Homo sapiens: one gene and its partner. The protein of the gene in region 2 interacts with the protein of the main gene of each other region in a pairwise test. Each region holds a gene or a part of one and is shown on either strand. Other genes may lie near its edges.

The links.
Region 1: the proteins of GALNT15 (region 2) and GOLM1 interact in binary tests that used the Homo sapiens proteins (3 or more experiments, as listed by UniProt).

The regions. Positions count from the first base shown.
Region 1 is NC_000009.12:86,033,559-86,037,058, forward strand, and holds part of GOLM1 (Golgi membrane protein 1), read right to left. Parts: intron 2,950-3,500; coding exon 2,790-2,949; intron 2,068-2,789; coding exon 1,810-2,067; intron 1-1,809.
Region 2 is NC_000003.12:16,176,891-16,182,344, forward strand, and holds part of GALNT15 (polypeptide N-acetylgalactosaminyltransferase 15), read left to right. Parts: intron 1-5,454. UniProt on the Homo sapiens protein: Catalyzes the initial reaction in O-linked oligosaccharide biosynthesis, the transfer of an N-acetyl-D-galactosamine residue to a serine or threonine residue on the protein receptor.

The DNA.
Region 1 (3,500 bases), on a different chromosome or scaffold from region 2:
CACATGCATTATGTGTACTCCACTTGGACTCGGAATCTACAGACAGCATGGCCCTAAATACAAGGGTGCATTCTAGGCAGAACATGGAGAAACTAACAACCCAAATCTCAATTTTTTAAAGAGATAATCAACTCAAGATAAAAGAAAGGTGCCACTGTTTTAGGAAGGAACGGATATCTACAGCTAATGACAGCATCTCCTTAGAATGGAGAGAGGAAATGGAGCTGCCACTGTGAGACACGTGAGAAGGTGTCCCTCATACTTAGAGCATGAGAGCACCCATTACTCTATTCTTCCCTGGAGTGGGCAGCAGCCAGAGAAGATGAGGACAAAAGGCTTTCAAGAGACCTACTCAAAGGGTTTAACTTACATATTTTATATGTGTATGCAGGCTGGTAAACAAAATCTTTTTTTTTTTTTTTTTGAGATGGAGTCTCACTCTGTCGCCCAGGCTGGAGTGCGGTGGCGTAATCTCGGCTCACTGCAACCTCCGCCTCCGGGGTTCAAGCGATTCTCCTGCCTCAGCCTCCCGAGTGGCTGGGATTACAGGCACGTGCTGCCATGCCCAGCTAATTTTTGTATTTTTAGAAGAGATGGGGTTTCACCATATTGGCCAGGATGGTCTTGAACTCCTGACCTCATGATCCGCCCACCTCGGCCTCTCAAAGTGCTGGGATTACAGGCATGAGCCACTGCGCCCGGCCAAACAAAATCTTTTTTAAAAGTGCACACCTGGAAAAGCAGCTCTAGTCTCTTTCTCTGGCTCACTGCCTGGGGTGGAAACTGCACAGGCCTATGTGTCCACCGCGTTTCTTCAAATGAGGTCACCACACCTGCATCTAGAAGCAGGTGCATCCTGCAGGCACTGTGGCATCTCAGGCCCACCTTTGTTACGCTTTGTGACCAGCCGCTGAGGGGTCTGACACTGGAGCGCCACAGGCTGAGCGAGCCAGTGAGATCTCCCCGCCTCACACACCACAAGCATCTTCTTGCTGGGTGAGCACGGAACACAAGGACAGAGCAGGGATACTTAGGGGGAGGCTGACAAAATCCAATTCTTTAACTGGAACTTGGAAGGACACGTTCTTCAGTAAGACACTGAAGTGAAAATTAGATTTAAATGGAATCAAGGTAACTTCTGCAAATAAGTGTATTCTCCAACTTCTGTGACTTGGTCCACCCCAGAGCGCAGGTGTCATGTCCTCAGAAGTGTTCCTGGCTCAGGTGGGAAGGACATTTTCCATATCTGAAGGGACTGAAATACATCCTGGAATAGTCGGTTGATCTCCAATTCCTACCCTTTATTTCTTTAAAAAGAAAAGAGTCAACCAAACCAAAAAGGAGTGATTCACATGTCATTTTTTCTCAATGTTCACATATGCATTAACCTTCATCTACCCAATATTCCTTCCTTCCTTCCTTCATTCATTCACTAGGCACTGATTGTCTAAATGGCACCAGACACTGCACGACGGTGGACATACAAAAATGGGGCATGTGGCCTGCCTGCCAGGAGGGGGCGTCCACTTGATGCTAAGCACCCATCTGCAGGCCATCCACTTGCAAGGTCCCCTCGACTCCCTGCCAATATTGCATCTAAAACCTCGAGTTCTAGAGCATATGCTGCTCTTCCTTCCTGCCTCCCTCTTGATAACGAATAAGAAACCTTCAAACGAAAAGGAATTGGCAAATTGTGGACTGCTGTTTGGTAAAATTCAGGGTGATATGTTGGTGCTGGGAAGGACATGGAGGTGGGCTGGGTGTCTGGTGGAAGGGAGTCCACAGCGGCCCCCGAAACTTCACACCCACCTTCCCCGGCAGCTTCCTGCTCCTCCTCCTGTCCGTCGGGGATGACAAGCTGGTCTCGCTCAGGGCCCTCCATCTCTGGATTTTCCTGGCTCACTGACAGGGCAGCCTGCACCTGTGGGGTCTGGCCCAGTTCTCCGGCTCCCCCGAAGCCTCTTCCACCTACAGGTCTGTCTTCCACCACCTGCTCCCGGCCTGGCTCCTGCGGCAGCCTGTCCCTCTGAGGCTCCTCATTCACCACCTGGATCTCATTGGTTTCCTCTGTGCACAGAACACAGTTAGCTGTGACCTTGCCAGCATTTGATTTAAAAAAAAAAAAAAAAAAAAAAGCAAAACCTGGTGCCACTCAATTCCCAGAGCCTTCCCAAGGAGTGGGGGTGGGGTGGGCTGCACACAGGAGAACAACCAGGTAGCTCCTTTTGTGACCTCAGCCACAGACTGCAGGCCTTTCTGTGCCTGCAGCTCATCGTCAGAACCGCGACAAAGGGAAAAGTAGCTTACCAAAAAAAAAAACAAAACAAAAAAAAAAAAACACCTGGACTAAATTACCTTGACAAGGTACAAAGGGAAAAGGGTATCCTGCTGAGTGACCTGATCATCGGGTCCGCTGGAGCAAGCACTTGGGAGCCAGGGCAGGCAGGCCCACCCAGGGCTTGCTCACAGACACAGCAGCCTCCTGGTTCCCAGTGTCTGGGGCTCAGCCGCCTCCCCCGAGTCCCACAAGCCCACCAATGTCCTGCATAAAGGTGCAGCCTGGGCCTTTCTCTACACAGCTGCCCAGGAACAAGGCACTTCGTTTACAAGGAGGAGACATCTGTCAGAGAAGCCCCAAAGCCCCAATTCCAGGGGCCCAGAGAGACACGTCCCTGCTCCTGGCTGCGCCGCTGCCGGGTTCACTGACTGCCTCAGCAGCTCGCTGGGACTGCTTCCTCTGATGGGGCTCTGGAGAGCTGGGAACAGGGCAACTGCTGGGCTCTGCTTACCTTTCTCAACTTGTCTCTTTGAATCCAAAACCACTTCGGAACTGGGGGCTGGTGTCTGGGACTTGCTGTTACCAAGCACGTTTCCCTTCCCTTGTGGCACCTCTGTGTGTGGCAGGCCTGCTGCCTGCAGCCTGGGCTGAGGCTCACTGAGGGCTTGGAGCTGAAACAGAAGCACAGGACAGCCAGCCAGGGCAGGGCTCTGTGAACAGAAGCCGTAAAAGAATCCTACCAATGCAATGAATCCCACCAATCCCACCACCATATCCTTCCAACCAAGACCCCGAGAAACGCCACAGTCTACTCTGGTCACGCCCTGGTCATGTGGCGTAAATCAGAAGACAAGAGGTTGAGTCAAGGTCTCCCAGAAAGTACTGTCAATACAGAATAAAACTGGGCAGTGATTCTGCTGAGAGGAAGCATTTACGGAATAATAAAATACCTAGGCGGAAGATCAACAACAAAAAAGACATGAACGACACAATACTCCTTGACGAAACAAACATCTGCAGAACCCTCAGCCTAGCAAGGGCAAACACACCTGCTTCTCAGGCACACACACAATATTTTCCAGGATGGACAAATGGCAGGCCACAAAGCAAGCCTCCATACACTTAAATATTTAACTAAAATCACACAAAGTAAATTAATAGAAATGGAATGGATTATAAATCAATAACAGGATGAAACTTATGACATTTGCAAATATTTGGA
Region 2 (5,454 bases):
GTGAACATCTCCTTAAATTGTGTGCCCCGGGTGCCTCACTCACCGCACCCTACTTCCATTTCAAACCCGCTACACTGTTTTCAAGCCTTACCTTTAAAAGCTATTTTCAGGAAATTCCCACCCCATTCTAGTTTTGTGCCCTCCTTGCACCCTGGAGTTTTAACTCACAGCACTTACAAAACTAAAGCCAAATGATTATTGATGTATTTATCAGTCGAATGCCTGCTTTCCCTGCTATGCTGTGAGCCCCTTAGAAGGTCAGGACTGAGTTTGTATTGTACATCCCAAAGCCCAACATGCAGTAAAGAAGTGATTGCTGAATGAACAAACATAGTTTTCAAATTTTTTGACACTATTTTTCACTGGCCTGGAGCAAGAGTGAGCATCCTCTTTTTGCCGATAAGAAATAATATTGCCTGAAACGAGAGGGTCTGTGGCTACCAAAGTGGTCTGTGTGTGTGACTGTGTGTTTGCATAGTGCAAATGTGTGGTGAATATGCATATTTGTGGGTCATGGTATATGTATGTTCGTGCATGTGTGTTGTATATATTCTCTGTGTTGTGTGTGCATTGCATTATGTGTATTAAATGGATGTCGTGCATGTATGTGTAGTACATGCAGGTACTGCGTTATGTGGTGCCTATATGCTTGGTGCATGTTACTTTGTGTATGTGATATGATATGCACAGCTATGCATTGTGCAATGTGTCATCTTGTGTGCATGTGTGTTAATGTGCATGTATTATGTGCATGGTTCATATATGTATTGTGTATTGGGGTGATGCCACATGCATTGTTCATCTGGGTGTGTGTTGCAGTTTGCTATTTGTTTTGCATATGTTCACGTGGTGCATGTGTGCACAGGTATTGTGTTGTAACTGTGTTTCTTGTGTATGATGTGCTTCTGTGGTGCATTGTGCTATAAATGCATTGTGTGAATGGGATATGCATATATGTACAAGTGTGTTGTGTTTATTATGCATGTGGTATAAAGTGCATGGATATGTTGTATGTGGCACAAGTGCAGGTAAATTTTGTGGTGTGTGTGCTGTGCACGTATTTGTGTGTGCTGTGTGTGTAGTGTGCATGGGTGTAATACGTGTGTATTGCGTATCTTGTGCATGTGGTGTGATGTGCACATGTACTGTGCATGTACTGTGCCTGTGTGTGCTGTAGTGTTTGTTTTACATGTTTTGTGGTACATGTGTGCGTATGTATTCTTTGTGTGTTGCATGTATGTTATACATGTGAGGTGTGAGTGATACATGTGTATATGTGCAGGCATGTTGTGTATGTTATGCATGTAGTGTGATGTTCATGAGTGTGTGATGTGCACTGTGAGTTGCGTGGTGCAAGTGTGGGTACATTTTGTGCTGTGTGTGTTTGATGTGCACGTGTGCGTTTATGTGTGTGTGCAACACTTCAGTGGTTGCTTCTTCCAGCCAGAGTAACCAACTCGTCTTGACTTGCCTGAGACTTCCCAGATTTTAGCACTGAAGGTCCCAGGCAGTCGGGAGGAAACTCCTCAACCCCTGCGAAGGGAGACGATTGGATTCTCCAATCCCCAGCTTGCCAGGGTTCTCACGGAACGGCCGCCAGCTTTGTGCGGAGGTGCTCAGCGCCCTCTGCTGGCCCCGGCTGGTGCGTGCGGCCTGCGCAGCCCAGGCCTTGGCTGCAGACTCCCCTCTCCAGTCTGCGGTTCAAGCTCTGGCGCCTTCCCTTAACTGGATTCCTCGCCTGCATGCACAAGAGAGTCCCTGCAAAGCAAGGCAAACGATCTCCACCCTCCCCCCAGGGTGACAGGACTCTTCGGCTCCTACCCCTTTAAATCTGGGCCACAATACAACACAGAAGAGAAACAGGCATATATTAAGTGCCTGCAGTATGCGGGCCCTGCACCGCTGCTTTCCCACCAGGACCAGCAGAGCGCTAGGACATCAGGAGCCTGTGCCTCGGGCTGTAGCGCACCCCGTGCTATCGCCAGCCACACATCCCCTTGCAATTCCATCCTTGACTCCTAAGCCAGACAAGCCCCTCTGGCCCAGTTCCTACACCCAAATGCCCAAACTAGCTCTGCCTGTTGTCCTTTCCCCCCTGCCCAGGCCACAGGCCTTTTTCTGAGTACCTTTAGAGTCATTTCTGGAGGTCAGTTTGAATAGGTGGCATTTGAGGAAAATTACCAATGATGCAAGAGCAAAAAAGAAAAATATCAGTGGAAAAGAGGTCAAAAGACAGTCTCTGAAAAGAGAGGCAAAATTACAGTGAACATTTATTGAGCACTTACTATGTGCTAGAGGCTCTGCTAAGTGGTTTTTGTTTTCAACTCTTCATAGAAAACCTCTAAGGTAGGTTTCATTTCATGGATGAGGAAACTGAGGCACAGAAAGATGGAGGGACTGGTGCCAGGTTATCTGACCAGGTGAGTCTGACACCAAAGTCATACTCTTAACCACCACACTACACTTTGCCAGTCTGCCACTCTCCAGACCAGAGATTGGGCAAGTCACATGGGCTGGAAGTGTTTTCATCTTAAAATGGGGAGAACTCACACGGGTCCATGGGGAGACAGTTGCGGAAATGCTTATCACAGCATCCTTGATGGTGCTGAGGAGCTGGAAGCCACCAGGATGTCTTGTCACAGGGCAGGAGGAGCTGGGTGCACCCTATGAGATACTCAGCCTGAGTTAGAAGCAACAGACTCTGGGTACATTCAACAATGAAGGGAGACCCTAAAAATCCCCTGCTGAGTGAAAAAGTAAGGCACAGAAAGCGGCCTACAGCACTGTATCATTAGGGGAAATGTAAATCCATGCAAACTAACCAATCCATTCTTTACAGGAACAGAACAAACTCAATGAAATGGTTGTGCTGTGGGAAAGGGAGGGTCCTCGGGGCAGAGGTGGGGATAAAACTGAATGAATACTGAGGCAAAATAGAGAAGAGCCCATGATGGAACCGCAAACAGGAACGGGATTAACTCAGCCCTTCAAAGCTGCTGTCAAAGAAGGGGCGGGAGGAACAAGCCCGGCCCATTTAGCCTCCTGTAGCACGGATGGTTTTCAAAGTTCTTCCAGGCCCCAGCTCTCCTTTGATCATCCTGGTATCCAGTGCAGGGGCAATGGGTTCCTAGGATCAAAGAGGCTGCTGTGTGAGCCAGTGCTTTGTAATCTACATCTACGGCTGAACTTGAGCGTGCATCCGAACAACTAGATGGCTTGTTAAAAATACAGATTCCTGGCCTCCATTCCTCCAGTTTCTGATTCAGTGGGTGTGAAGTGGGGCTCAACATTTGCATTTCTGCAAACTCCTGGTACTGCTGCTGCTGCTGCTCCCAATCCAGAGACACTTTGAGAACCTCTGCTCTAAGGCACACTCTTTATGCCGAACAGACTGGCCAGAGCAGTGCTCCTCAAACTTTAAGGTGCATGCGAATCTTCTAGGCATCCTGTTAAAATGCAGTCAAATTCAGCAGGTCAGGAGGGCAGCCTCAGATGCTCCATTTCTATCAAAGGCACTCCAAGGTGGCACCAGCACTGTTGGCCCACAGAGCACATTTTTCAACAGTGAGGAGTTACACCACGACTTCCCAAAAGTATGTGCACACCCAACCCCCCTATATTGCTTGTTAAAAAGACGTAGATGTTCAGACCCCCTCACTGGCAATGCTCCAGAGTTCTGAGTTGGAGCCCAGTAATCAGAATTTTTTTAAGCTGATGCTAGATAGTCTGGGGAACTACTGGTAGAGAAAGCGAGTGGAGAGCTGGTAGAGTTTGGGAAGTTTCCACGTAGGAAGCAATACTAGAGTCAGAAAATAGAAAAGAGAGCAGAGAGGAACAGGCTCCCTCATGGCCCCGGCAGTTTGTCCCTAAACATAAATGTCAACTCAGCGGTAGCTGGCTGTGTGCTACCTGCTTTTAACTTGCCTTTATGGTTCAGCCTGTGTTTCCCTGGTTTATGTACCCATAGCTGTGATTAAACAGTTGTGGACCTGTGGTTGAATCCTGGTACCACCTGTTACTGTGTGACCTTGTACAAGTCACTCAACCTCTCTGAGCCTCAGTTCCTCAACTGTAAAATGGGATAATAATAACACCCTTGCATAAGGTTGTAGAGAAAATGAGACACAACGTGTGATGATTTTCCTTGTGTATTAAGTCCAAACAGAAGTTGCCCTTATCATATTCTTGAGTAAATGGCCTAGGAGTAAGTTGGAGTGATGGAGAAAAATGGAGCTGTGGATATCATATTGCTGTCCTTTTTCTGACTGAAAAGTTATTTTCTGGCCCTGGAGGCTGCTAAATCATCATAAATGTGCAGGTACATTGGAATTATCTGGAAAGTCTTAAAAACTATTCATACTCATGCTCCACTTCCAAGGATTTCTATTTAGTTGGTCTGGGGTGAGGCCTGGGCACCAAGAGCTTAAAACTCCCCAGGTGGTTCTATCGTGAAGCCAGGCTGCAAGGCCCCAGGTGGTCAATGGCTCTTCACAGCTGGTGGGGAGAGCTGGGAGGGATATCTTCTGCTTTGTTCCCCACTTCCTGCCCCAGAGGCCATAATGGGCAAGGGGTCAGAGGGAAGGGCAGGGGCGGGAGAGTCGCCTTGGCTGCAGCTTTGTTGTCAAGTAGAAGATGGTGTTGCAATCCACGCGGGGTCCACTCAGTTCCCTGTGAAGACTCTGTCCTGCCAGGCCGTGATTCACCCCAAGATGACTCCCCACACCCCTTGTTGGCTGTGATAGCCTGGCCTGCAAAAGAGGAAGGAGGCAGCTGACAGGGCATCAGTAAATCCAAGAGAGCAGACATGCCCTTCGGGATGAGGGACAAGAACAGGAACAAGCTGGGCTTGAGACCTGGGGCTGGAACTTAGCTCAATTCCCCCCACAAGAGAGGGAAGACAACCCAGTATGGGCAGTGTGAGTGGTGCTTATGGGGCCTGGCTGTCCAAGTCGTGAAGGGATGCCACAAACACCAACCTTCCAGCCCTCGAGTCCACAGTGGCCGCAGCAGAGGCAGTACCTCCTCTGGACCTCCACTCTGGATCCATCACCCCGCAGTGGGGTTGCAGCGTAGACAGAGCTGACTATATAGCGCCCTTTTTTGGGTCAAATGCATTCATGGTAACAAGTGTGGTAGGGTCTTACCCTGCACTTCAGGACAAACCCAGCTGGCCTTGGGGGTTAGATTAGATGTGGTTAATCTGCACCTTGTCCTGGGGTGGGAGGAATTGATGTTATTTACTCCAGTGCCACTCACAGTGTGGTCCTCAGACCTGCAGCCTCAGAAATGCAGACCCTTCAGACCCCACTTAAACCTACTAGATGAAATCTCTACTTTAACAGGATCCCTAGGTGATTTCCATTCATGTTAAAGTTTGAGAGCCATTATGAGGCCAGTGGTTCACAGCCCCCACTCACATTAGAACCAATGAGTCGTCATGTCAAGGCTCCAAAG